Linked DNA regions of Homo sapiens. The protein of the gene in region 4 purifies or fractionates together with the protein of the main gene of each other region. This does not show direct contact. Each region holds a gene or a part of one and is shown on either strand. Other genes may lie near its edges.

Region 1 (7,026 bases), on a different chromosome or scaffold from region 4:
GACACTGTAAAATACACATGTAGTTTTCAACCCCATTTCCAGGCATACTAGCTCCCAAATTCCTTAGAATCTCCAAAGTGATGTCTTTTTGTAGGCTAATGAGTTGATTGGAGGCTGGCAGCTCCAAGGTAGCTTCAAGATGAGGACTGGTCACCAGAATGACCAGGGCAGGATTAGAGGGTCGGGCCTTTCAGCAGTGGCACCCAACCTCCAGGGAGGAAAGAGGGGCTGAAGGTCGAGTTGCTCATCAGTGGCCAGTGGTGTAATCGATCATGCCTGTGTAATGTCACTTCCATAAAAACCAAAGGACAGGGTCTGGAGAGCTTTCAGGCAGCTGAACACATGGAGGTTCCTGGAGGGTGGCGCCCAGGGAGGGCGTGGAAGCTCTGCACCCCTTTCCCCATACCTCACCCTCCACACTTCTTCATCTATATCCCTTATAATAATCCAGTCAACCTGTTTCCCTGAGTTCTGTGAGCTGTTCTAACAAATTCATCAAACCCAGAAAGGGGGTTGTGAGAGCCCTGATTTCTAGCTAGTTGGTCAGGAGCACAAGCAAAAGAACCCTGGGCTGGTGGCTGGCATGGGAAGGGGGGGACTGTCTTGGGGACTGAGCCCTCACCCTGTGGTGTCTGACGCCAGCTCCAGTAGACAGGGTCAGAACTGAATTGCAGGACCGACTGCTTGCTTGCTGGCAGGGGGAAATCCCTGCACATTTGGGCCCAGAAGTCCTCTGCATTGACCATTAGGTTGAGTGAGCCAATAGAAAAAAATACCTTGAGTTTCTTTTTTCCACTCTCAGAGCTAATTCTTCTGTGTTTCTTATTTTCAGATACACCATGTTTATTAAACATGAAAAAGCAATTACAGGAAAGCAAACATTCAGATAAACAAAAGAGGCAGTCAGCTAGTTCCCAGGCAAAATTTCCATTATGTTACCCAAAATATCTCTTAAAGGCAGACACAGCTAAAACTTATGAGAAGCCTGGCATCTCAGCAGGTCTCCTCAGAACTGCCCCAGCAGCACGCCTCCTCAAAGGCTGGGGACCCCACTCACCAGCCAGCGGCTCCACGTGCAGCTGGGGCTCCTGTGAGTACACGTCGTACTGCACAATGGGGTAGATGTGAGGGAGGACGAACCACACGGAGCCCACCGAGGCGCACAGCTGCCTGAGTGTATACGTTCCAGGTTCCTTGGCCTAGAGTCAAAGAATCAGGCATTTGAAACCACGTCACCCAGTTTTGCAGTTAGCTTCCTGCGGTAGCGCGGTGCAGCGGTCTCTCTGAACTCCAGAAAGGCCTGTACTTCTTTCCCTCTTGTACCCCCTGCTCTTGTGCCTAAACCTCTAAGCTTGGGCTCTTCACAAGGCCCTCAGAATCTCTCAATTCGTGATTTTCTGAGTAACTGATGCTTAAATTTAACTTTAATAAGGTATTTTCAACTTATCTAAACTGTATTTGTGGCATTGTAGAGACATTCAGCACGAGATTTAAGCCCTGCCCTAGACTAAAAAATGTGACAAATAGCTGTACTTTCCACAGGCCAAATCCTGTTGAGTTAGTGGAACTTACAGGATATCCTGTGTCAGAGAAAACTTTATGTTAGAGTGGGTGAGAAACACCAGTTTTGACACCCAGCCAGCCACAAAAGGAAAATAAGTTTGAGTGGGAAAGTGTACCACCTTCTTTGAAAGCTCATTTTAACAAATGAGGGTGTGTATTTTCATATGCAGGGGGGAAAGCTAACTGAATCCAATAATCCAATGAGTTAAAAAGCTAACTTAATCTAAGAACAAATATCTACGTTAAGAACTTCACTCAGAATTTATCAAATGTCAGAAAATTGTATAAAACACGAAAGAAAACATCAGTGTATTTTTGTATAAGGACAGAGACAAAAACAGGGTTAGGAGAACAAAGGACTCTACTCAATTCACAGCACACTCCAGACAGTTCTTGTAAGCTCCACGGCCCTGCTTTACAAACTTGAAAGTCAAGTTCCCACCCTGAACGCATACCTGAGTCCTGAATGTTATCTGGTTGGCCCCTGGTTCCAGGGTCACGTGGCTGCACCTCAGCACGTGGGCACCCTCCTCCAGAGCCACCCCTGAGGGCATCTCTAGAGAGGAGCTGCTCTCCTGCCTTCTCAGGAGCATGTGGACGTTTCTGCAGATAATCCCAGTCGTGTTCAAGGAGTTATCAGATGGGCTTCTCTCAAACATTTCATACAACTCCAGCGCGGGCAAACTGTTTTGGGATACAGGGAAAGGTGCGGTCTCGGGTGGAAAGTTAATGATCCCATTGGACGTCTTGTGCTTGGTAAGCCACTCCGCAGTCTTCCGGTAGCTGTTTTTCTCAATGCTGAAGTGGACATTGACCACAATCTGCTCCACGTGAACAGGCACAGGCATCTGGCTGTACATGGTTATCTCAACGCACAAAACGCCGCCCACGTGGACCACGGCATTGGAGGGATCAAAATGGAGATCTCGCAGTTGTGCAAAGGAATGCATGGGTAGCACTATCTTATGACCTGTAAATAGACATTATCGTAAGTGACTCCCCAAGTCACACTTCCTGACAGTAAGCAGCAGCAGGCCGCGGACACAGTAAGATCACCGAGAGCAGACTGAAGCAAGCAGCAGTGATGGGCACAGCAGCTGAGCCCAGCCTCCTGCCATCTTCACACCCCCCAAAGGCTATTGTATCAAAAGCAGAATATTAGCAAATACCTACGTAATGCCTAGAAATCATAAAATGTACAGAAATTAACCTTCTCAAGTCTGCTTTGACAAACCTAAGAGAAATACAGGTCAACTACCTCTCAATTTCAAACGACAATTTGTAAATAGTCCAATTTCTACAGCTATTTCCAAGGGATTCCAATATTTTCTCACCTACTTAAAAACATGCTCAGTGAAGATGCCCAAGTGCCCTGCTGTGATGTGGAAACAAACCCCAGGTGTCTGCCAGTCTACAAAGTCAGCCGATTAAGCAGGACCCCTCTGTGCCCCCAGGCCCAGGATGGCAGCAACCAGCCAGGTCTACAGTTGCTGCTGGAATGAGAGCCTAATGCTCTCTCTGGGCCCTTCTCTCTCTGACCGAACTGTAAGTACCTTGGTTTTGTCTAGAAAATACACAAGGCTGCAGAAGTGACCAGTTAAGTATTTATTAAATATTCATCAACGAAAGGACTTGCCAAGACTGATGCCATAGATCATGAGAAACAGTAAACGATTGTGGAATATTTTATTCGTATAGAGATACCAAGGAACGTTGGCAGGAACATCACAACTCAAATAGTCTCAAATACAAAGCAGCAGCAGATGTGGTCACGGCTCTACCAACAGTCAGCTTGGGCGCGTTAAAGACTCCACAGACTAACGTCATGATGCTCCCGAGAAACCCACCCACATGGATCTTTTGTTGTCCCCCTTTCTTTGAGACAGGGTCTCGCTCTGTCGCCCAGGCTATAGTATAGTGGCACCATCTTGGCTCACTACAGCCCAGTTCTCCTGGGCTCAAGCGATCCTCCTACCTCAGCCTCCTGGGTAGCTGGGACTACAGGTGCCCGCCACCACACCTGGCTAATTTTTTGTAGAGACAGGGTTTCGCCATGTTGCCCAGGCTGGTCTCAAACTCCTGACCTCAAGTGATCTGCCTGCCCCGGCCTCCCAGGGCAGGCAGAAGTTCCTAGAAGTTTCAGGGTCAGGTTGATGTGGTTATTGACTGCTGGGGTGTATTCACTTACAAGCATCTGGGGCCCAGCGTGGTGGCTCACGCCTGTAATCCCAGCACTTTGGGGATTACAGTATGGGGTTTCTTTTTAGGGTGATAAATATGTTTTAAAATTGACTGTGGTGGCCAGGCATGGTGGCTCACATCTGTAATTCCAGCACTTTGGGAGACCGAGGTGTGTAGATTCCTTGAGCTCAGGAGTTAAAGACCAGCCTGGGCAATATGGCAAAACCATCTCTACTAAAAATACAAAAATTAGCCAGGCATGGTGGTATGCTCCTGTAGTCCAAGCTACACAGGAGGTGGAGGTGGGAGGAGCAATTGAGCCCAAAAAGCAGAGGTTGCAGTGGGCTACAATCATGCCACTGCACTCCAACCTGGGAGACAGAGAAGAAAAAAAATAGCTGGGTGTGGTGGCCCACACCTGTGGTCCCTGCCACTCAGGAAGCCAAAGTAAGAGGATCTCTTGACTCCAGAAGGTTGAGGCTACAGTGAGCTGGGATCGTGCCACTGCACTCCAGCCCAGGCAAGAGAGCAAGATAGTCAAAAAAAAAAAAAAAAAAAAGAAAAAAAAAAAGAACAATAATATTGACTGTGGTAATGGTTGCACATATTCCTGAAACAGACTAAAAGCCATTGAATTATAAACTTCAAATGAGTGAATTACATGGTTTGTGAATATCACAATAATGCTGTTACATTTTAAAAAAAAAAAAAAGCACCATCTTAAAAAATGAAGAAAAAGACTGGGTGCGGTGGCTCACATCTGTAATCCCAGCCCTTTGGGAGGCTGAGGTGGGTGGATCACCTGAGGTCAGGAGTCTGAGACCAGCCTGGCCAACAGAGCAAAACACTGTCTCTACTAAAAATACAAAAAATTAGCAGGGCATGGTGGCGGGCGCACGTAACCCCAGCTACTTGGGAGGCTGAGGCAGGAGAATTGCTTGAACCCGGGAGACGGAGGTTGTGGTGAGCTGAGATGGCACCATTGCACTACAGCCTGGACAACAGAGCGAGACTCTGTCTCAAAAAAAAAAAAGAAGAAGAAGAAAAAGAGATGGGAAGAACTTTTTTTACATTAAAAGAGAACTGAGATCTAACAACCACATGTAATATGTGATATCCTGTTGGACTCCATTAAAAATGATTTATAAAATACTTTAAGACAATTAGGGAAATATGAATATGGCCTACTTAGCAGATGATATTAGAACCTTATTAATTCTTTGGGTGTGGTTAAGAGACTGTCCTTATTTTTAGAAGATCTAATGTGGTCTAGAGTTTGACTTAAAGCAAAAATAAAAAAAAAAGTCAGGTGAAAGACATAGATACATGTCAGCTACACAGCAAAATGTTAGCAACTGTTTACTGTAAGTGGTTGGTATATCTTGTATTCTTTTTTACTTCTGTAATATTTGAAAATATTCCTAGTCAAGTTGTAAGAACTGGTCTTACCTGGGCTGTCTGACGGCTGGCTGGCAAAGTCAAGTATCTCCTGGCAGAAGTGCTTGCGCTCCTCTTCAGTGAGGTGGTGGTCACTGGCTAAGAGGCTGCTGGTCTGCAGGTAGCTGGAGCGGAGAGGTAAGGAGCGTGGAGAGGCTCATACTTAGGAGTGCGGGGGGAAGTGGATGCAAAGTCTCCTACGGCCTTCACAGAGGCTTCAAAAGCCAAAGGGCTTTTTTTTTTTAAGTTACTAGGGCTCAAAATTAGATTATAAAAAATCGACTAGACATTTCATTCATTTTCTATACAATACATATGTATAAGTTAGGACTTTTCTCTCCTTAATAATAGGTGTGAATGAAACATTGATTGTGGGCAATGTTGCCGTATAAACAGAAAATAATTTTCCTGCTTCATGAAAACATTAAAGGATACTTTTCAATTTGTCCAAGGTGCTTTTGACATTCGGCCAGCTGCTTCCTTGTGTGTGTGATGGGGAGTGCCCAGCCCTCAGCCAGGTAGTTTTTCAGTGCTCCTTGAAGATAGATTTCTGCCTTTTGTGGAGCCTTTTTCCTCCTTGCAAAGTCAACAAACAGTAGCTTTCATTACAGCTAGGGATAATCAACACACTGAAACCCCATCTCTCCCGCTTTGGCCTCCATCCTCCAGACCCCATGCCAGGACAGACTCAACATCTCTAGATAGCCCTTTTCCACCCACCCCACTCCGTGAGAAAGAGTACCTACTCAGGACGACATAATTAGACTCCCAGGCAAAGATCTGAGAAATGAGCGTGTGGTGATAAGAGCACAACACATCGTTGGTCTGGCTTTATACACATGTCGAGGAACTTTCATAGCTGAATCTCAGGATAAGAAAGTGAGCCTATCATTCATGATCTCAAGCTGACAGGCAAGAGGGCCAAGGCTAAGAGAAGGTGAAGGAAGGGCTTGTCCACAAGTACACTGCTAGTCAGCAATGAAGCCAGGAAGTCCAAGTATGGGTCTACACTACCTACTAAAGGCACAGAAACACAGAAGCAGTCTACAGGGCGCAAGCGGAAGGGAGCACAGAGCCACTTGGAAACTCAGGCAAAGAGCACTCCACAGGATCCAGCTTCCAGAGAACGCCGGAGAATTAAAATAGCCACACTTGGCCCCCAAAGCAAAGTTTAAAGCACAACTGTTTTTTTTAAAGATGGGGTCTTGCTCTGTCACTCAGGCTGGAATACAGTGGTGTGATCATAGCTCACTGCAGTCTCAAACTCCTCAGCTCAAGTGATCCTCCCGCCTCAGCCTCCTCCACTGTAGCTGGGACTACTGGTGTGTGCGGCCTTGCCTGCCTTTAAAATGCAAATTAATAAGGGCTTGTCAAAGCCTCAGGAGCAACAAGGATCCCCTCCCCTTTCCCGAGAAGCCTCTCTGCTTCCTTAAGGAGCACCTTCCTCTTCAGATACACAGCATGGAAGTTCAAGAGAGCTACATTCTAGCTGTGACTCTGCTGTTAACCAGTGGGTAATCGGCAAAGCTGCTCCAACCACATCCGGAAAACCAGAAAGTTCACTTAGCTGATCTAAGAATCCCTTTCCAGCCAATTCACATCAGTTCAAATCAATTCTCATTTCTTGCTTCACCTAATGAAATCACTTGAGTACAGATTTCAAGATCTCATTTCAATCACTTTTTTTTTTTTTTTTTTTAGAAAATGAAAACAAGCATCTTTTTCCTTATAGCTTGTATCTCCTTTGAGTACTCTGAAATGGTAACCACATGACCCACTGGGGTTTCTTCTCTTTGATAGTCTGATTTTATGAAACACACCAGAAATACGCTAAATTTTGAGTTT
Region 2 (7,026 bases), on a different chromosome or scaffold from region 4:
GACATTTCCTGTTGAGCTACAAAATACCACCCCATTTCAGGTTGGACACTTCCTCACTCCTACCAAGAGCTGCAGGGGAGACAAGGCTTTGTTCCTGCACCAAAGCATTCCTTCAAAAATTAGAGAACCAGCCAGGCACTGTGGCTCACACCTGTAATCCCAGCACTTTGGGAGGCCGAGGCAGGTGGATCACTTGAGGTCAGGAGTTCGAGACCAGCCTGGCCAACATGGTGAAACCCTGTCTCTACTAAAAATACAAAAATTAGCTGAGTGTGGTGGCGCACGCCTGTAATCCCAGCTACTCAGGAGGCTGAGGCACAAAGAATCGCTTGAGCCCAGGAGGTGGAGGTTGCAGTGAGCCGAGACTGCACCACCACACTCCAGCCTGGGTGACAGAGCAAGACACCATCTCAAAAAAAAAAAAAAAAAAAAAATTAGAGAACCATGGAGAAACAAAAGCAACAACAGGTTACCCATTATGAGAGGAGGATGTATTTGATTTGAGTTCACTGGTGTCATTATCTCACTGAAGTTCAAATGCTAACTGATGTCTAATTGCGGCTGTCCCACTACAGTGAGCAAGCAGCTTTATGTGCCACTGTATTTTCAGTGCCTGGAGCCATGCCTGGCATATGAAGGCTCTAACAAACACTTGTCAGTCCTTATCCACTATGCGTGACGCACTGCGTCACAGCACACTCCCGCTCCTCCTGCAGAGTTGTGAGCTCAGATTTCAAAAGGCAAAAAAGACCTGGCATTTGAAGGTGGATCTGCAACCTCACAGCCAAGAAGTGGATGACTGAAAAATGTCACTGATGCCCATGTGGCAAAGGAGGAAGGCATGAGTCAAGGGGTCAGAGCAGGATTCCTGACCCATGCTGCCTGTGAGCTTCAACCCCTCACCCCTTCTCTGTAAAGCAGGGGCAGGCCACTCCCTGCCGACCTGGCAGGTGGCCGCCAAGCTGTGCACACCATACAGCAACACCTTATCAGGGATGACTCCCACAGTGCCTGCTGGCTGGACAGCAGTGTGCGCTATTCACGAGGCACAGGAGGCGCAGCAGAAGGCAACAAGGTGAGGTAGAAAGGCCCCGGGCCTCAGAGACAGACCTGGTGCTTATATCAGCTCTGCTGCTTGGTGGCTGCCCGGGTCTCTAAACCTTGCTGCCTCAGCCCCACATCAGCCAGCACAGCAACCCCGTGTAGATCACAGGGCTGCCGTGAGGATTAAACACAGAGCAGGTCTACAGCATGCCTTTTCCTTTCCTTAAGCCAAATATGCACATTTGGGTGAAGAAATGAAAATTCCTTCCTTCCAGACCCTGCAAAGCACCACAGGCAGGTGCGACTGAGGCTATTCCATGCTTCCAACTCTGAGGGCTGGATTTAAGACTACTGTGTCTCAATTCTGTGATCATCTCTCCTCATACTTACCAACAACCAGAACGACACCGTGTGACCTTAGATAAATTTCAGAAACATACTGAGCACCTACTTTGCAGCAGGCACTATGGTGGCATGCACCTTACATCACTGAATCCTCACCTGTGGCTCATCAGCCAATCCTATACAGGAGGAGGGAGAGCCCTGTCCAAGCCAGGAGGCCAGTGACTGACACAGTGACACATCACTTTCCCTGGCAAATGGGGACGCCCTCTTGGCAAACAGCTGCTGCCTAGGCTTGCATCTCATCCAGCTCTGCAGAACAGCCACCATGGCAAGACACAGCAGCAAGCAGAGAGTGGAAGGAAGTGGCAAGGAAGAGCTCATCTGCAATTTTGATTTGAAATAAAGTTTTTGACTTAATAACAGGCAAGATGGGAAGCTGACCTTTTCCTGCTCTATCCAACACTCCTTGTACACAGAGAGAACAGACATACTTTTCATTTGTATACGGTAGCTGTTTAGGAGCTCCCAGGTGGTATTTCTGGCATCCTGATATCCATGCTTGGCTGCTTTGTAAGTGAGGAATTCGACACTGTGGCCATCAGGAGGGAAAAAGTAGCCACATACGCAGGGTGCACAGCCTGGCAATCCGGAGACGTGGGCTCTACTTCTAGCTCAGCTAGGACCTAGCCCTTACCTCTCCAGATTCACCCTCTCATCTGTGAACCAAAGGGACGAGACTGAATAAAACTGTTCAAACTGTGCTCTAGCACAGTGCTGTCCAACAGAAATAAAATGCAAGCCACGTAAGTACATTTCAGTTTCTAGTTGCCACATTTTTAAAAGTAAGAATGAAACAGTTGATACTGATTTTTAAAATATAGTTTATTTAACCTAAGATATGTAAAATACTATCATTTCAACATGTAATCTGTATAAAACATATTAGCAAGAAAGTTGGCCAGGCACAGAGGCTCACACCTGTAATCCCAGCACTTTGGGAGGCCAAGGCAGGCAGATCACTCAAGGCCAGGAGTTCAAGACCAGCCTGGCCAACGTGGCAAGATCCTGTCTCTATTAAAGATACAAAACTTAGCCAGGCATGGTGGCACCTGCCTGTAGTCCCAGCTACTTGGGAGGCTGAGGCATGAGAATCACTTGAACCCGGGAGGTGCACGTTGCACTGAGCCAAGATCGCGCCACTGCACTCCAGCCTGAGAGACAGAGTAAGACTCTGTCTCAAAAAAAAATTAGCAAGAAAGTTTATTTTTTCAGAAGTAAGTCTCAAAATCTGGCGTGGGTTTTATTCACAGCCCATCTCAACTAAAACTAGCCTCGTGTCTAGTGCCCAAAAGCCACAACTGGCTGTGGCTGCTGTATGGGACAGAGCTCCAGGAGTCCCACGAGGGGAGCCCCACTAAAAAGAGGGGAGTGTACAAGACAACTCTAAAGGACTCCCCCAACCAAAGGCTGTCTCTGTCTTTAAAAGTCACTGGTTTTTGTTTGGTTGGTTTTTTTAGCAGCACTCAAACAGATTCTGACAGAAAGTCATTAGTTTTAAAAACCAATGGACAACACCTTTCTACTCCTTGCTGCAATGAAATTCTGCCCTGTGCTTTCCCTTTCTGATGCAGGGAAGCCAAGGGGCCTGGGTCTCTAGGTAAGCTTACCTGCTGTCTGTGTCCAGTCCTACAAAGTCCTTTTTCTCAAACGGGACACAGAGAAGGGGGATCTTATCCCCAGACTTGTCTGTGGCTCTGTCCAGACGCTTGGACTCCAGCACGATGAACAGTGACTCGATGAAGTCCTCGATTCTCTTCTCCACCGTCTGGCAGTCCTCGTAGTTGGGGTAGAAAGCCACGTCGGTGCGCGGCTGCTCCACGATCTCCCCCTGCAGCCCGAAGACAAAGAGCCGGGAGTCATACAGTGTGGAGCCGTAGATCTCCTTCTGCACGTGGAACTTCTCAAAGGTCTGTGGCCAGTCCTTGGCCGAGAAGCAGTCTGTGATGGTGATGAGGCCCACGACTTTGCGGTGGGTCTGGAAGTCACCCCACTCGTTGTTCTCGGGTGGGTAGTGGTGCCTGTAGCGGATGTAGAGGACTCGCTGGGAGTCCCGCACGCTGATCTGACTCACAGAGCAAATCCTCTTATAGATCCTGAAGAAGTTCTCCTCGGAGACGATGCCCACAGGCTGGACCACCACGAGCAGCGTCTGGTGGTCCTCAGCACACTGCATGTAGTCAGGGACGCTCATTTTGAAGTCCCTGTTCAGAGAGAAGAAATGAGGCTGTGAGACACAGAGTCCTGAGTGCTGAGAGCCTACCCTGGGAGGCAGTGACTGTGACCTTCACTACCCAGAGGCAGGGGAAGCCCCAAGGAAAGCCGTGGCATCAACAGGTCTTAGGGCTCTACACGTGGCTGTCGCAGCTCTGATCATAATGCTGTAACTGTTGACCTTCAGTCCCTTGGCCTCAGCATGGAGCTTCTACAGAAATGGGGCTGTTTCTTGTCTTTCTATTCTCACCACCTAACCAGGAGTAGTAAGAGTCAGTGCTCAAAAATGTCTGTTGAGTGAATGAATAAACACGTGTGTAATTGCTCCCCCATCCCCTCAACAGGATATTAAGAAAAATCCACCATGCAATCACATCTGGATTTGAATTCCGGGCTCCCTGGAACTCCTCAGCTACAAAATAGTGGTGATAATAGAACTTGTCTTGGCCGGGCATGGTGGCTCATGCCTGTAATCCTAACACTTTGGAAGGCCGAAGCTGGCGGATCACTTGAGGTCAGGAATTCGAGACCAGCCTGGCCAACATGGTGAAACCCCACCTATACTAAAAATACAAAAATTAGCCGGGTGTGGTGGCACGTGCCTGTAATCCCAGTTACCCAGGAGGCTGAGGCAGGAAAATCACTGGAACCCGGGAGGTGAAAGCTGCAGTGAGCCAAGATTGCGCCACTGCACTCCAGCCTGGGTGACAGAGTGAGACTCCGTCTCAAAAAAAAAAAAAAAAGAGGCGGGGCGCAGTGGCTCACACCTGTAATCCCAGCACTTTGGGAAGCTGAGGCAGGCAGATCACAAGGTCAGAAGATCGAGATCATCCTGGCTAACATGGTGAAACCCCATCTTTACTAAAAATACAAAAAATTAGCCCGGCGTGGTGGCAGGCACCTGTAGTCCCAGCTACTTGGGAGGCTGAGGCAGGAGAATGGCATGAACCAGGGAGGCAGAGCTTGCAGTGAGCCCAGATGGCGCCACTGCACTCCAGCCTGGGCGACAGAGCCAGACTGCATCTCAAAAAAAAAAAAAAAAAAAAAGAATTAAAAGAAAAAGAACTTGCCTTATAAAACTGTATCTAGATTGAGGAGGTTGCGAATGTAAAGGGCCTAGCATTGTGCCTAACATAAAAGGAGAGATTACACAAATATACCACCTTTCCTTTATAAATGGGAGAGTTGCCATAACCTCTCTGAGCCAATTTTGTCAGATATAAAAAGAAAACGTTATTACCTGATTCCCCAGAGCTGGGGAAAAATTAAATTAGATGACCCACGTGAAAGAATCTGGCTCATAGGAGATCCTCAATACATGTTTGTTGAAGGGATTAGTGAACAAACAAACAAATGAACAATCCAATGAATGCTGCCCCCAGCCTACAGACGGTCATGATGGAAATCCCACTGCCTGGAAGTCAGGGCCGATATTCAACTCCCAGCTCTACACGCACGATCTGGGTGACCTGGAGCAAGCCTGTGTGCTTCCCTGAACCCTAGTTTCATTGTGAATAAAAATGAGGATAGTAACACATACCTCAAGGTGTCAGCAAGTCAACATTCTGGTTGTGATAACATACTGTGGTTTTGTAACATGGCACCACGGGGGGAAACTGGGCAAAAGGTATATAGGATCCCTCAGTATTATTTCTGACAAATGCACATGGAGCTACAACTACTATAGTCTCAAATAAAAAGTCTAATTTTTTTAAAGGTTAGGGAGATTAAATGAGCTCTCTGTATCAAATAAGAAAAAGATGCCTCGATACACACCTCCACTGTCCCCATCAGTGGGCTGACACTTCCTGAGGGGATTTGGCCATGGTCCCCATGGCCAGAGGCAGCTGTACCATGAGCTAATGGGGTTCAGCTTCAGGCCCCTTCCATGGCCCTCTATCTAATTTTGCATTTTTAATTTTGTTTTCTTTTTCTTAAATAGGAAGCCCAAAACTGCATAACCTTCAGGTCACCAAAGCCTGACTGCAGAGATCGTGGCAGTAAAACCCTCCCAGGTGACACTAAGATTAAAGTGACATTGCTATAAGACCTCTGTGAAATTCTAATGGCAAGCTTCTCACCTGCACGGAGAGGAGGAGGACTGTGTGTCGGGGGCTATCCTGGACATCACAACCCCACCTCTACAGACTTCAAAAATACACATGGATAGAGAAGTATGAACAAAATTAAATTTTAAAAAAAGGAAACCCTAGCCTCCCAACATGTCTTGCTTCTGCCCAGGATCTAAACGGTTCACAAGTATATTACATGTGTGTGACTCAGCCCAAGTCCCTGACTCCAGTGCTCACGCTCTCAAGGACGACGCCCCACTCTCTCCTGCCCTTTCCCCACAACGATTCCCTAAAGAGTCTTTTCTGCACACAAAAACCACCTTCGAAAGAACCAAAATCACATCACCTTCCAACAAAGAGGCATAAAACCCCTCGGAGGACATATCAAAATACTGAGCGGGGGAGACTGGAGCGCTCATGTTTCTCAAAAGTAGGCACAGGTTTAACAGAAGCTGAGAAACACCGAAGCCTTCATTCTACAGAGGAGGAGAGCGCGGCCCACCGCAGGTAACAAAGGGCCTTATTTTAGAAGTATCATCTCGGCCAGACACGGTGGCTCACACCTGTAATCCCAACACTTTGGGAGACAGAGGCGGGAGGATCACTTGAGGTCAGCAGTTAGAGACCAGCCTGGTCAACATGACAAAACCCCATCTCTATTAAAAATACAAAAATTAGCCAGGAGTGGTAGCACACACCCGCAGTCCCAGCTACTCCAGAGGCTGAGGCAGGAGAATTGCTTGAACTCAGGAGGTGGAGGAGGCAGTGAGCCAAGATCACAACACTGCACTCCAGCCTGGGTAACAGAGCGAGACTCCATCTCAAAAAAATTAATAAATAAAAATGATTTAAAAATAAAAACTATCGTCTCATCTAAAAAGCAGCATAATCAGCCGGGTGTGGTGGCTCACACCTGTAATCCCAGCACTTTGGGAGGCGGAGGCAGGCAGATCACTTGAGGTCAGGAGTTGGAGACCAGCCTGACCAACATGGAGAAACCCGGTCTCTAATAAAAATACAAAAAATTAGCCAGGCGTGGTGGCGCATGCCTGTGATCCCAGCTACTCAGGAGGCTGAGGCAGGAGAATCGCTTGAACCCAGGAGATGGGGGTTGCAGTGAGCCGAGATCACGCCACTGCACTCCAGCCTGGGCAATAAGAGTAAGACTCCCTCTCAAAAAAAAAAAAAAAAAAAACACAACCTGACCTCACACCTGTGATCTCAACACTTTGGGAGGCCAAGTCGAGTGGATCGCCTGAGGTCAGGAGTTCGAGACCAGCCTGGCCAACATGGC
Region 3 (7,026 bases), on a different chromosome or scaffold from region 4:
TGCCTGTAATCCCAGCACTTTAGGAGGCCAAAGCAGGAGGATCACTTGAGCTCAATGGCTCAAGACCAGCCTGGGCAACATAGCAAGACCACATCTGTACTAAAAGTAAAAATAAAATAGCTGGGCATGGTAGCATGTGCCATTTTGGAGGCTGATGCAGGTGGATTGCTTGAGTCCAGGAAGTTGAGGCTGCACTGAGCCATGATCATGTCATTGCACTCCAGCCTGGGCAACAGGTTGAGCAAGGGACCCCATGAAAGAAAGAAAAGAGAAGAGAAGAGAAAGAAAAGAAAAGAAGAGGGGAGGGGAGGGGAGGGAAGGGAAGGGAAGGGAGAAAGAGAGAGAGAAAGAGACAGAAACAGAGAGAAAAGAGAAAGAAAATAATTTCACTATTGTTTTCTCTTAGAAGAGGAGAAAAATCCAACCTACTTAGGAGACCAACCACAACACAATGAAAAGTTGCACTAACTACTTCAGAATATTAGTAACAGCCGATGTTGGTAGGAATAACTGGTATTTATTCTAGAGTTCTTATAAATAAAATCCCACAGTTAGCATCTGCATTATCATCTAGAGGGTTAGTTAACACGTAGTAGAATGAGGACTTATGCAAGGTGTAATACACATAACATTTTACTACTATGAAAACAAATGCAGTCCAGTTAGGAGAAAACCAAGTGGATTCTAAGTTATACACACCTTAATGACAAGACTCCCCACCATTTGCGAATGTAAAAGAATTAATTTTTGAATGTTGACACTACAATATTTAAAATAGCTATTATAAATGCACATAATGTACTCCATGCTAGGTTTTTATTTCTTTGTTTGTTTAAGGAAACTGCAAGTTATACTGTGGTTAAGGCTTGTATCTTCACCCTTGAAAAGGCCCACATTCTATCACAGTAATGTATGGTCAGACTTAGCTCCAAATGTTAAACACTTGGATCAAGTAATAACCAGTTATATTGCAAAAGGAACCTATACACATTTATTTATCAACTCTAGTTCCTTAATAGCTACCTAACAAGTCATTAACTTACAGAAACATGCGTCATGAGAATGAAAAAATGTCACCCATCCCTTCTGCGTATTAGCAACTTGTCACTCCTGAGCAACAGTGCTTACGTCACTGAGGTCTATGAACAGTCACTTTTCACATTCATCCCAAAAGACGGAATGACTTAAGCACAAATGCAACATATTATAAATAATTTCTCCCCAAAAAGTCACAAATTAAACCAAAGTATTTTACAGAATTCATATAAAATGCCTTAAAATCTGCCTTCACTTAAGCTCGCTCACTCCGTGTCTGGCGAGCCAACTGGATGTCTTTGGGCATGAGAGCCAACTCTCTTACCGTAGATGGCACACAAATTAGCATCTTCAAACCAACCCACCAGGTACACTTCACTAGCCTCCAGGTACACTTCACTAGCCTCCTGCAGCACCCCAATGACTGTGCTCTGAAACCTAAAGTTGGTTTTGAAATCCTGGGTGATCTCTCTCACCAACCTCTAGAAAGGCAGCTTCCAGATGAGAAGCTAGGTCAATTTCTGGTAACGAGAATCTCTAGAAGTGCCACAGTCCCAGGCCCGTAGCGATGAGGTTTCTTCACCAGACCGGTAGAGGGGACACTTTTTTTCTGGCAGCGTTAATAACCTGCTGTTAGGAGGAGGGGCTCCCACCAGTGGATTTACAAGCACTTGTCTTGGCTTGGGCCATCTGCTTCTACCTAACATCAAAGTTTTAGGTCACTTCTTCAATCGCCACATTGCTTCTGCTGCCCAAGGAAAAACCGCAGTGTCCAAGCTAAGAATAGACGTTCCTCCAACAAAAGACCAAACTGCTATTTACTTATTTATTTGACAAGTCTTGCTCTGTCGCCCAGGCTGCAGTGCACTGGCGAGATCATGGTTCATTGAAGCTTTAAATTCCTGGGTTCAAGCAATCCTCCCACCTCAGTCTCCCAAGTAGCTAGGACTACAGGCACATCACCATGCCTGGCTATTTTTTTTTTTTTTAAGAGATGGGATCTCACTCTGTTACCCAGGCTGGTCTCAAAGTCCTGACCTCAAGATATCCTCCTGGCTTGGCCTCCCAAAGCTGTGGGACTACAGGTGTGAGCCACTGCACCTGGCACAAGGCAACAGGATAAACAGGGAACTACTGCTTATAATTGATTTTCAGAAATCAAATCCTCTTCCTAATTACTCCTCGTCTCCCTTTTATCCCAATTTCAATCATTCTTCTCTCCTAGGTTATAAAACCTGGTATCACCTTTGATGTTTTTCCCTGAGTCATTTGCTTTCTGCTCTAAGTTCTATTGTTCCTTGCTTCAAAATGTCTCAGAATCATCCAGGCTTCCCAGTTCTCAGTGTCTTAGCTGATTATCACACTTTGCCTTAAATCATGAGATTGCTTTGCTCTTTCTTTGACAATCTCATTCAATCTTAAGGCTTGAAATAGTACCTCTATGCTGAACACATCCAAATCCTATGGATGACTGATGGACTGTCCTCTACAATCCAGACCCCATACCTCTCTGGCTTCAACCTTCTGCAGATGCACTCTGCCCCGTCCCTTAAACATGCCAGGCACATTCCAGGGGCTTTTGCATCAACTCTTCCTCCAGATAGTCACACAACCAACTCCCTCACTTCCTTTGAGTCTACTCTCATGTCACCATCTTAGGCCCATTTTAACCATCTTCTTTAAAAGTGCAACATCATACCCCTTTGGCAACTCTCTATCCTAGTGATTTTAAAAATGTGTTGGCTGGGTGTGGTGGCTCACATCTGTAATCCCAGCATTTGGAAGGCTGAGGTGGGCGGATCACGAAGTCAGGAGATCGAGATCATCCTGGCTAACACAGTGAAACCTCATCTCTACTAAAAATACAAAAAATTAGCCGGGCATGGTGGCACATACCTGTAGTCCCAGCTACTCAAGAGGCTGAGGCAGGAGAAACGCTTGAACCCAGGAGGCAGAGATTGCAGCGAGCCGAGATCATGCCACTGCACTCCAGTCTGGGTGACAGGGCGAGACTTCATCACCAGAAAAAAAAAAAAAAAAAAGACCAGCAACATCAGCATCACATGGGAACTTGCAAATTCTCTAGTCCCACTCCCAATTTACTTAATCAGAAACTCTGGGTATGGGGCCGCTAATCAGCTTTAACAAACCTTCTAAAAATTGATTTTGATACTCAGTCCCACTTCCTTGCTTAATCTGTCTCCACAGAACTTCTTTCACCATTTAATATACCATACATTTTACTATTTTATATTGCCCATGTGCCCCTTGTTCCCCTCTCTGCTAAAATAAAGCTCCAAAAAGGCAGGGATTTTTGTATATTCTGAAGGCTGTTTGTCTCCCACTAAGGAAACCATAGGGCTTATTATTTGCTAAACTTTCTTCTAAGGAACCATGCACTCTGCTTATGGTGCTGTGACTATTAAATCTGCGTTTCTAGTACAGACTTTATTGGGCATAGACATCTAGTGGTCCCACAGGACCTTCGAAGTATGCATATTCAAATGATATTCATTTTATTAATGTCTTCAGCCTGCTCTGCCTCCAAAATTTCCTAACTTCATTAATGGCACCACCATTCACCTAGTTACTCCAACCAGAAAACTTCCATTTTCTTCACCCCTGTGCTCCCAACCCCCCATACACTGTAGTCCGGTGGAGCCTATCTTTTACAAGCTTTTCAAAATTCATCGTCTCTCTCTACCCTTACTTCTTAAGTAAAGCCTTATCATTTCTCTCCTGGTTTTTAGCTATAGCTTTCCAACTGGTCTTGTCTCATTTTTTCCTACTTTGTGTCATCTTCTATATTTCTGGTAGTGTAACTTCTACTAAAGTAAATTTCTAAAAAAAATCATGTTATTCTCGGCCGGGCATGATGGCTCACGCCTCCTAGCATTTTGGGAGGCCGAGGCAGGCGGATTACCTGAGGTCAGGAGTTCGAGACCAGCTTTACCGACACGGAAAAACCCCATCTCTACTAAAAACATAAAACATTAGCTGGGCATGGTGGCGCATGCCTGTAATCCCAGCTACTCGGGAGGCTGAGGCAGGAGAATTGCTTGAACCCAGGAGGCGGAGGTTGCAGTGAGCCAAGGTCACCCCATTGCATTCCAGCCTGGGCAATAACAGTGAAACTCTGTCTAAAAAAAAAATCATGTTATTCTCTACTGGAATTTCAGCACCTGCTCCCCTTTCTTCAAAATAAAGTCCAGGCCTGATGTAGTGACTCATGCCTGTAAATCCCAGTACATTGGGAGGCCAAGGATTGCTTGAGCTTAGGAGTTCGAGGGCAGCCTGGGCAACATAGTGAAACCTCATCTTTAAAAAAATTACAAAAATTAGGTGAACATGGTGGCATGCACCTATAGTCCCAGCTACTTGGGAGGCTGAGGTAGGAGGATGGCTTGAGTGCAGGAGGCAGAGGTTTCAGTGAGCCAATATCTAGCCACTGCACTCTAGACCGGGCAACAGAGTGAGATCCTGTCTCAAAACAAACCAACAAACAAACAAAAAATAAAGTCCAAACTCCTTAGCATGGCATCATGGTATGTCCTTTCCTTAAAGACTCCTGGCTAGTTAACCAAATTCACAAACATCCTTCCCTTTTACCACTCTGAAATTTCTGCAGCAACTCCAGAGTGCCATGTTCTCTTCTGTCTCCCTGCCTTTTTATGTGCTATTCCCTAGACTTCACATTCTTTTTTTTTTTTTTTTGAGACGGAGTCTCGCTCAGTTGCCCAGGCTGGAGTGTAGTGGCGTGATCTCGGCTCACTGCAAGCTCTGCCTCCCAGGTTCACGCCATTCTCCTGCCTCAGCCTCCTGAGTAGCTGGGACTACAGGCGACCGCCACCACGCCCGGCTAATTTTTTGTATTTTTAGTAGAGATGGGGTTTCACCATGTTAGCCAGGACGGTCTCGATCTCCTGACCTTGTGATCCGCCCGCCTCGGCCTCCCAAAGTGCTGGGTTACAAGCGTGAGCCACCGCGCCTGGCATTCACATTCTTTAAATTCTGCTCAAGTATTACATTCTCCCAGATGGCTTCCCTGAAACTTCCTTAGGCCCTATGCTGTCGTAAAATTCTGTACATACATCTATTACTGTACGTATCACTATCTTCAGTTTTTCTGCTATTCTCCACACTTCTCAAACATGCTTAGGATGAGGCCAGGCGCAGTGCTCATGCCTATAATCCCAGCACCGTAGGAGGCTGAGGCAGGAGGGTCACTTGAGACTAGGAGTCTGAGACCAGCCTGAGCAACATAGCAAGACTCTGTTTCTACAAAAAAAAATTTTTTTAATTAGCTGGACATGGTAGCATGCCCATAGCCCTAGCTATTCGAGAGGCTGATGTGGGAGGATCACTTAAGCCCAGGAGGTCAAGGCTGCAGTGAGCCAAAGTCCCAACACTGCATTTCAGCCTGCATGACAGAGCAAGACATTGTCTCTCTCTCTCTCTCTCTGTTTTTTTTTGAGACTGAGTCTTGCTCTGTCACCCAGGTTGGAGTGCAGTGACACAATCTCGGCTCAATGCAACCTCCGCCTCCTGGGTTCAAGTGATTCTTCTGCCTCAGCCTCCCGAGTAGCTGGGACTACATGCGTGCACCACCACACCCAGCTATTTTTTGTATTTTTAGTAGAGACGGAGTTTCACCATGTTGGCCAGGCTGGCCTGGAACTCCTGTCCTTGTGACCTGCCTGCCTTGGCCTCCCAAAGTGCTAGGATTACAGGCCTGAGCCACCGTGTCCAGCCTCTTTTTTTTTTTATTTAAATAGAGACACTGTTTCACTATGTTGCCCAGGTTGGTCTCCAACTCCTGGGCTCAAGTAATTCTCCCACCTCAGCCTTCCAAAGTGCTGGGATTTACAGGTGTGAGCCACCACACTAACCCAGAGACTTGTCTCTTAAAAAAAAAAAAAACAAAAAAACAAGTTCAGCTAGAATAAGTGTCTGTAAATCATGATGCTCTTTTTGGAATAATCTGCTCTCTGTAGAATCACCTAGGAACATATTTATTAGCAGGAACTATTGAAACCACCTTTGCAAAGATTGTAACAGTAAGAAAATCATGACTGTAAAAGAGATCTCACCTAATCAACTCCATCTTGCCTTTAACCTCCAAGCTGCCCTTGGTCATTTCTGGATGCAGCCCAAGCTAACTTTGGGAGAAATTTAGTTTATAGTGTAAGCTTAAAGCAAGAATGATAATAGCCCTTCCCGAAACTAAATCACCTTTGCAAAACTAATGAAAGACTATAAGGTTAGGCTTATGAGAGGGGTCTGAATTCTGCTAAAATGTAGGTAGTTAAATGATAATCAGACATTATTCTGGAAGTCACAGATTTGTAACTTCCCCAATTACTCCTGTAAATAATATCACTATTGTAGAACCTAAAAAAGGCCTTTTGAGATGTCTTTTCAGACTTTTGCATTTCGGATGACTCCAACTGGTCCTCTGGCCCCCACCTCTGTAACTGCATCCCCAACCAACCAGGAGCACCCATTCCCCAGCCCCCAGCCTACCAAACTATCCTTGATAAACCCTAGACTCTGCATGTTTGGGGAGGCTGATTTGAGCAATAATAAAACTCTGCTCTCCCATTTAGCAGCTCTACATAAACTCCTTATTGCAATTCTCCTGTCTTGATAGATCAGCTCTACCTGGGCAGTGGGGAAGAAGAACCCACTGGGCAGTTACAATATGCTTATATGCAGACACTTTCAAATCCTATGATCACATGAGCTTTTGAATTAAGCCCTACTACTTAATTTTGCTACTTGTTCATGCACTTTTGAGTAGGCACCAAATTTTTAAGAAAAATTCAACTTGAGAACATTTTATCCATTAGCCTTTCAAAATCCATTCACCATAAATTGAGAAATGCCCAATTAGTCCATTTTAAGAGAATTCCTCTTTAAGCATAGTTTGAAAAACCTTGATTTGGAGGGTTAGAACACTGTTTCTTTCTTTTATCTCACCTCAAGTCTTAT
Region 4 (7,026 bases):
AATCTATGTTTAGCCCTTGAAGAAATTGCCAAACTATGCTCCCAAATGTACCTTCTTATCTTTCTACCAGCAATGTGGGAAGATTCCCTTTCCCCCATGTCCTTTCCAACATTGCCTATTGTCCTTCTTACTATTTAGCCATCTTGGTGAGTGTGAAGTAGTATTTCATTTTGGTTTTGACTTGCATTTCCCAAATGATTAATAATGTTGAACATTAATCAGCCACTAATTTTAGTTTATAATAGACATTTTACCAAAGAAGGTATACAAATGCAAATGTACTTAGCCATCTTATGCCTTCTTTGGTAAAATGTCTATTCAAGTTCTTTGCTCCTTTTGTGACTGGGCTGTTTGTCTATTATTGAATTGTAAGAATTCTTTACATATTCTAGATATAAGTCCTTTGTTAGATATATGATTTGAAAATTATTTTTCTCCCAGTTTGTGGCTTGGATTCTCATTTTCCTAATAATGCTTTTTGAAGAACAAATATTTTTAATTCTGATAAAGTCCAATTTATCAATTTTTGTTCTTTAAGGATAATGCCTTAGGTGTCAAATCTAAGAAGTCTTTGCCTAACCCAAGATCATGGAGATTTCTCTCCCTAGAGAGAAATTTTAGAAGTTTTATAGAGGAATTAAGTTACAAATTAATAATTACAAGATATTTTTACAAACCCAAAATATGTGGAAATTAAACAGCATACTTTTTTTGTTTGTTTGTTTTTGTTTTGTTTTTGAGACACAGTCTTGCTTTGTCACCCAGGCTGGAGTGCAGTGGCATGCTCTTGGCTCACTGCAGCCTCTGCCTTCCAGGTTCGAGAGATTCTCCCACCTCAGTCTCCCAAGTAGCTGAGATTACAGTTACTCACCACCACGCCTGGCTAATTTTTGTATTTTTAGTAGAAATGGGGTTCTGCCATGTTGCCCAGGCTGGTCTTGAACTCCTGGCCTCAGGTGATCCACCCGTCTCGGCCTCCCAAAGTGCTGGGATTTACAGGCATGAGCCACCACACCCAGTAAAACATACTTTTTAATAATCTATGGTTCAAAGAAGAAATCATATGGGAAAGTAGAAAATATTTCTAACAGGATGGCTGTGGTGGCTCACACTTGTAATCCTAGCACTTTTCGAGGCCAAGTTCACATAAAAACTTACATGCAAGTGTTTACAGCAGTATTATAATAACTATAATAACTATAAGTTGGAATGAATTCAGATGTCTATCCTAGCACTTTTCGAGACTTCATTTGAGGTCAGGAGTCCGAGATCAGCCTGGCCAACATGATGAAACCCCGTCTCCAATAAAAATAAAAAAAAAACAAAAAATAAAAAATAAAATAAAAATAATAAAAAAAATTAGCCAGGAGTGGTGGTGTGTGCCTGTAGTCCCCGCTACTCTGGAGGCTGAGGCAGGAGAATTGCTTGAGCCCGGGAGGCAGAGGTTGCAGTGAGCAGAGATCACACCACTGTACTCCAGCCTAGGTGACAGAGTCCATCTCAAAAAAAAAAAAAAAAAAGAAAATATTTCAAACAGAATAATGAAAATACATTTCAATAAATTTTAAACAAGCAACACATAAATAAATAAAAGGGCATTTTATTAAACACACACCATGTACATCTTTTGCCTTCTCCTCCTCCAGCTATTAACATAATTTTCTCCTCTTCTTCAGAATTAAATTTCTCAAAAAGAACGTTTATATTCAAGTATTCCTGTTCGTATTCCTTACCCTGGTCTTCTCTATAGAATGCAATCTGGCTGGGAGATGCTTCACTCCACTGGAACAAGGCTTACTGATTCCCAAGGGCCTCCTTGCTTCTAAAACCACCGAAGTGCTTCTGTCTTTATCTTATTTGTCCTCTTGGCAGCATAAATGCTGGTTTTCTTCCTACTTGTTTGGTCTCTCCTCTTCAGTCTTCATCATGTTTTTGTCCCTCAAACATCAGCCTTACGTCCTCTTTTCTTCCCTCTGCATCCTCTCTCCTTGAGAGACCTCATCCAGCCCATGTTTTCAACAATCATCTATACAACAATGATCTTCTACATACATTCCTGGCCCAGATCCCTGCCCTGAATTCCCAGCCTATAGATCCAACAACCCTCCTCCAATACTGTCTTTCCCAGCCATTCTCCAAGGCCTCTGCTATGGTCTGAATGTTTGTGTCCACCCAAAACTCATCTGTTAAAATTCTAGCCCCCATGTGATGGGTTAGGAGGTGGGGCCCCCTCTGGGAGGTGATTAGGTCATGAAGGTGGAGCCCTCATGAATGAAATTAGTGTCCTCATAAAAGAGACCCAAGAGAGCTCCTTTGCCCCTTCAGCCATGTAAGGACATAGAGGGTGCTGTCTATGATGAAGTAGACTCTCACCAGACAGCAAATCTACTGGTGCCCTGATATTGAAGACTTCCTAGCCTCCAGAACTGTGAGAAATAAATGCCTGTTGTTTATAAGCCACCCAGCTTATGGTATTTTGTTATAGCAGCCCAAATAGACTAAGGCAGCTTTTCAAACACAATTGGTCTAAATTCAAACTCATGACCCCCCTTTCTAAGCCTAAGTCCCCTTCTGAAGCTGCTTCTTTCAGCAAATGGTACCATTCTGCCCAGCTGCAAGCTTGAGACCTGAGTCATCCGAGACATATCCCTCTCCCCAAACCCTCCTGTCCAATCCATTGTCACAATTTATTGATCCAACTTTGAACATCTCTCAAATAGTTGATGTCATCTCCATCTTAGATACCACCATCCCAGTTTCTCAATGAGACTATGGTCCAGCCTCCTAGATGGTTTCCTCGAATCCATAAGTGTCCTTACCCAAACCATTCTGCACAATGGGGTCAGAGGAGCTTGTCAGATCACAGTCTTATCATGTCACTCTCCTGCTTCAATGGCTCTCAACACAAAGACAAAACTTTAACGTGGCCTATAAGGCCCGTCCCAATCTAGTCTCTACCTACTTTCCACACTTGACATTTTCCCCTCCAACCCCATGGCCTTTGCACAAGCTGTTACCTCTCCCAGGAACATGCTTTCTTCCCTTCTTGCCATGCTAATTCTTACTCATCCTTCATATCTCTGACAAGCATCACTATCTTAGGGAAGGCTTCCCTGACCTCCCTGACAAGGCAAAATGCACCAATTATTATCAACCCCATAGCCCTTCTTAGCATCCATCACAGCTATGGTTTTACTTTTTAATATGAGTCTGCCTCCCTCACTAGACTGAAAGTTCCATGAGGGAAAGGACCATGTTTGGTTTTATTCATGATTGTATCCTTAGTGCCTGGCACACACCTTGGGCACATAGTGGCCACAGAATGAGAAGTGTGTTGAATGAGTGATGGTAAGGTGATCTAGGATGAAAACAGGACATGAGGGAGAGGAGAAGGCGGTGAAGGAAGATATGCCAATGTCTTCAAACGACAAGGCGGAGTGACTGGGAAGTGAAAATGGATGAGGAAGAGTGGAGAAGCAGACAGCTTATGATAGAAGCCCCAGGGGTGTGGGGCTGGATGCAGGTGGGGATATTCTGGGAGCACTGGGCTTGGCATAAATGAAAACCAGACAGACTCTCCCAGAGGGATCCACCTCTTTGTCTTGACTGGATTGTCCTCAAGATAAAGAGAAAGCACCCCTATAATCAGCATCAAAAGGGGTCATGATTCTTCTTGGAGGAGGCAGGATGGTGTCATTCACTACAGGAAGCCAATGACAAGGGGGCAGATGGCAGCACCTCCGAGCTGGCCACTGAATCCCTGAAGATCTGCCACAATCCGCCTCCTGAAGAATGTCCGAAACGCCACACTCAAAACCATCACACGATATCTCACTAACAGCTCTTTGTGATTCTTTCTCAGACACTAACAACCAAAAGTTTAGGCCTGAATTCAAACCCTTCCCATGAAGACACGTACCTTGGTCCATCCAGGAAACTGGATAAAGGTGTCCTGGGGCAAGTCTGGGATCCCACTGGGAATGGAGAAGTTCCCCATATAAAAGGCCGGGAGCGTGTAGTTGGATGAGTTGTGGGCCCAGGCTTCATCATGGTGGCCACTGTCACGGTGTCCCCAGCCCCCCAGGTGGCTGCACACTGCATCCTCAGTGTCCAGTGGAAAGATCGTCCAGTCCGTGAGGATATTGGAACTGAGAGTCAGGTTAGAAACCAAACCCTGCAAAGCAGAAACAGAGCACAGTGAGCTGGGGAGGGAAGGAAAAAGGCTTCACATGTCTCTGCATTCCAGGGAAATGGGAAAAGCAAACCGGGATACAAAACACCAACAGGAAATGAACCTCGAAATATGTGTACATCGAAGTAACACAGATCTAACTGGAGGTTGAATTACAAATCCTTGGGAAGAGATATATTCCCCAAACTATAGCTTTCTCCTTTGCAGGTCATGATGTCTCTATAAAAGGCCCAGAGTTTCTGCTTCTACAGAAAGGGCATTGAGTTGCTAGAGTGATTGATCCCAAATTCCCAAATTTTCAGAGTTTGGCTGAGAGCCACTGCTAGAATAGAGAAAGATGGGCACCAAGAAAGATGGGCCAGGCGCAGTGGCTCATGCCTGTAATCCCAGCACTTTGAGAGGCCAAGGCAGACAGATCACTTGAGGTTAGGAGTTCAAGACCAACCTGGCCAACATGATGAAACCCCATCTTTACTAAAAATACAAAAGTTAGCTGGGTGTGGTGGCAGGTGCCTGTAATCCCAGATACTCAGGAGGCTGAGGCATGAGAATCGCTTGAACCTGACAGGTGGAGGTTGCAGTGAGCTGAGATCGCGCCACTGTACTCCAGCCTGGGTGTCAGAGCGACACTCCATCTCAAAACAAAAAGGGATCCAGTCTCTACAAAACATACAGAAATTGGCCTAGTGTGGGGGCATGCACGTATAGTCCCAACTACTTGGGAGGCTGAGAAGGGAGGATTGCTTGAGCCCAGGAGACAGAGGTTGCAGTAAGCCGAGATTGTGCCACTGCGCTCCAGGCTGGGTGACAGCAAGATCCTGTCTCAAGATGGAATCTGGGGACAGAAGGAATGAGTGAGTGTGGGATACAAAGGAATAGTCATCCCACTGCGGATGGAGCAGGTACGACGGATGCAGCCAGGAGCAAATATTGGCCTTGAGCACCTCAGCCATCATCACAGGGAGGACCACACCCGAGTCACTCACCTGTTATGAGGGCCAAGTGAGATAACATACATGAGAATACTGTGATACCTTAAGAGGATAGGAAGGTAATGATGACGATGGCAAACCTCAGACCTGAATTCAGAAGCTGCTCTATTTGTTCCACACAGGCCAGGGCTGGGCTGTCAAGGCTCAGCTAACTTCCCCTTCCCTGGCTTGTATGTAGGGAACTTCCCCATTCCCAGTGGAATCCCAGATACCAAGTCTCGATTGCCCATTTAATAATTTGATAAATATTAACCAGGTGGCTGTATGTCAGGCTCTTTGACAGGTACTGGAGACCCAGAGACTACACAACAGAGTCGAGTCACTCCCATGGGTCAATGTGGCCTGTGAGAGCCAGGCAGGAGGCCATGAAGTCCACCCTGAGCACAAGAACTATGAGAGAGACATTTATACTGGAGGCAAAGGTGGCCTGCACACAGCTATTCCCTAAGTTCCCTAAGATGTAATTGCCTGATCTCAAGAGGGTCAGGAAATAGCCCCAGACACCTGTCCTGCCCTAGCCTGGGTGGTGCCATTGTTCCCTTGATAAGGCATTCTCTCCTCTCGCGGAGGTTGAGCTCCCTGAGAGAAGCCTGTCTCTTGACACCTTTGCATTCCCCAAAGCACCTGGTGGGGCATCTCGCGGAGTGGGAGCTTAACAAATGCTTGCTGAATAATGCTCTAAAAATATGTGTTAGAAAAACTTATTTGGGCTACACATCTGGACACAGGAGTAATCAACAGAGGTGAGAGCCAGTGCCCCAAGGGAAGAGGCTTCCTACAAGTGAAGAGTTTGCCACAGGCTAACCATCCAAACCCATAAAACAGGGCAGAACAGAGGCTCAGCTGGCTTTACTGGCAAAGGAGTGCCTTCAGTGAGCTTGGTGGTCTTTTAAAGCAGAGGAAAAGCATGGTGGAGGGGCTTCCTCCTTCTGTTTCTTTCTATAGGATGACCAAACTCAAACACAGGGGAAAGGTTCTGTTTGCAAAGCTCAACTTTCTCATCACCTACAGAGGAAAACAGCTCTTCAAAATAGCTCAACTACTTCTTTTTTTTGAGACAAGGTCTCACTTTGTCACCCAGACTAGAGTGCAGTGGCATGATCATAGGTCATTTTAATCTCCAACTTCTGGACTCAAGCAATTCTCCTGCCTCAGCCTCCTGAGTAGCTGAGACCACAGGTGCATGTCACCACACCTGGCTAAGTTTTTAATTCTTTGTAGAGGTCTCACTATTTTACCCAGGCTGGTCTTGAACTCCTGGCCTCAAGTGATCCTCCTGCCTTGGCTTCCCAAAGTGCTGAGATTACAGGTGTGAGCCACTGTACTGGGCTTCAACTTCTAAGTTGTCACCCCTTAAACCTTAGTCTTGACAGTGTGGTTTGTCCTACCTTAAAATCGTTGATATATGCACCATAGTTCACACGTCCCATGTTCTCTACCAGAAGGTCCAGAGTGGCTCCAGCTTTCCCTGTTATGTTCAGAGTGATCACATTGTTTCGCTCAAGGACTCCCTGGGGGATCTGTGGGGTTCAAGACCAAATGACAATTGAATTGAGGGTAAGAAGGTCAGCAAGGAGAGGCAGCATGCTCAGTTAATTTAGCACTCATTTTCTTGCCTTGAAGTGTCACCAGACTTGGAAAGAAATGCTTTGATAGCATCTTAGCCCAAGTTACCGGCCAGGTCGGAAAGATCCCCCAATCACTGCTTCCTAAACAGGAAAACTGCCAGACACAGCTCAGAGCATGGAACGGTCTAAGCTGGTTTCCTTTGCCCTGGAATGTTTTACTGCCAACTACTTTTAGTGGAAAATTCCAGGGGAGGATTCTTACTAGAGTAGCTGC

The links.
Region 1: the proteins of GLB1 (region 4) and TRAPPC10 purify together in Homo sapiens (affinity purification with mass spectrometry; 2 studies listed by BioGRID and IntAct, with this or other methods). This does not show direct contact.
Region 2: the proteins of GLB1 (region 4) and TRAPPC9 purify together in Homo sapiens (co-immunoprecipitation; 3 studies listed by BioGRID and IntAct, with this or other methods). This does not show direct contact.
Region 3: the proteins of GLB1 (region 4) and TRAPPC6B purify together in Homo sapiens (affinity purification with mass spectrometry; 2 studies listed by BioGRID and IntAct, with this or other methods). This does not show direct contact.

Annotation. Positions count from the first base shown.
Region 1 is NC_000021.9:44,078,295-44,085,320, reverse strand, and holds part of TRAPPC10 (trafficking protein particle complex subunit 10), read right to left. Parts: intron 5,758-7,026; coding exon 5,617-5,757; intron 5,307-5,616; coding exon 5,194-5,306; intron 2,534-5,193; coding exon 2,019-2,533; intron 1,200-2,018; coding exon 1,058-1,199; intron 734-1,057; coding exon of another isoform or gene 623-733; intron 1-622. UniProt on the Homo sapiens protein: Specific subunit of the TRAPP (transport protein particle) II complex, a highly conserved vesicle tethering complex that functions in late Golgi trafficking as a membrane tether.
Region 2 is NC_000008.11:140,447,734-140,454,759, forward strand, and holds part of TRAPPC9 (trafficking protein particle complex subunit 9), read right to left. Parts: intron 3,651-7,026; coding exon of another isoform or gene 3,641-3,650; coding exon 3,057-3,640; intron 1-3,056. UniProt on the Homo sapiens protein: Functions as an activator of NF-kappa-B through increased phosphorylation of the IKK complex. May function in neuronal cells differentiation. May play a role in vesicular transport from endoplasmic reticulum to Golgi.
Region 3 is NC_000014.9:39,160,315-39,167,340, forward strand, and holds part of TRAPPC6B (trafficking protein particle complex subunit 6B), read right to left. Parts: intron 1-7,026. UniProt on the Homo sapiens protein: Component of a transport protein particle (TRAPP) complex that may function in specific stages of inter-organelle traffic.
Region 4 is NC_000003.12:33,010,137-33,017,162, forward strand, and holds part of GLB1 (beta-galactosidase isoform a preproprotein), read right to left. Parts: intron 6,705-7,026; coding exon 6,573-6,704; intron 4,175-6,572; coding exon 3,920-4,174; intron 1-3,919.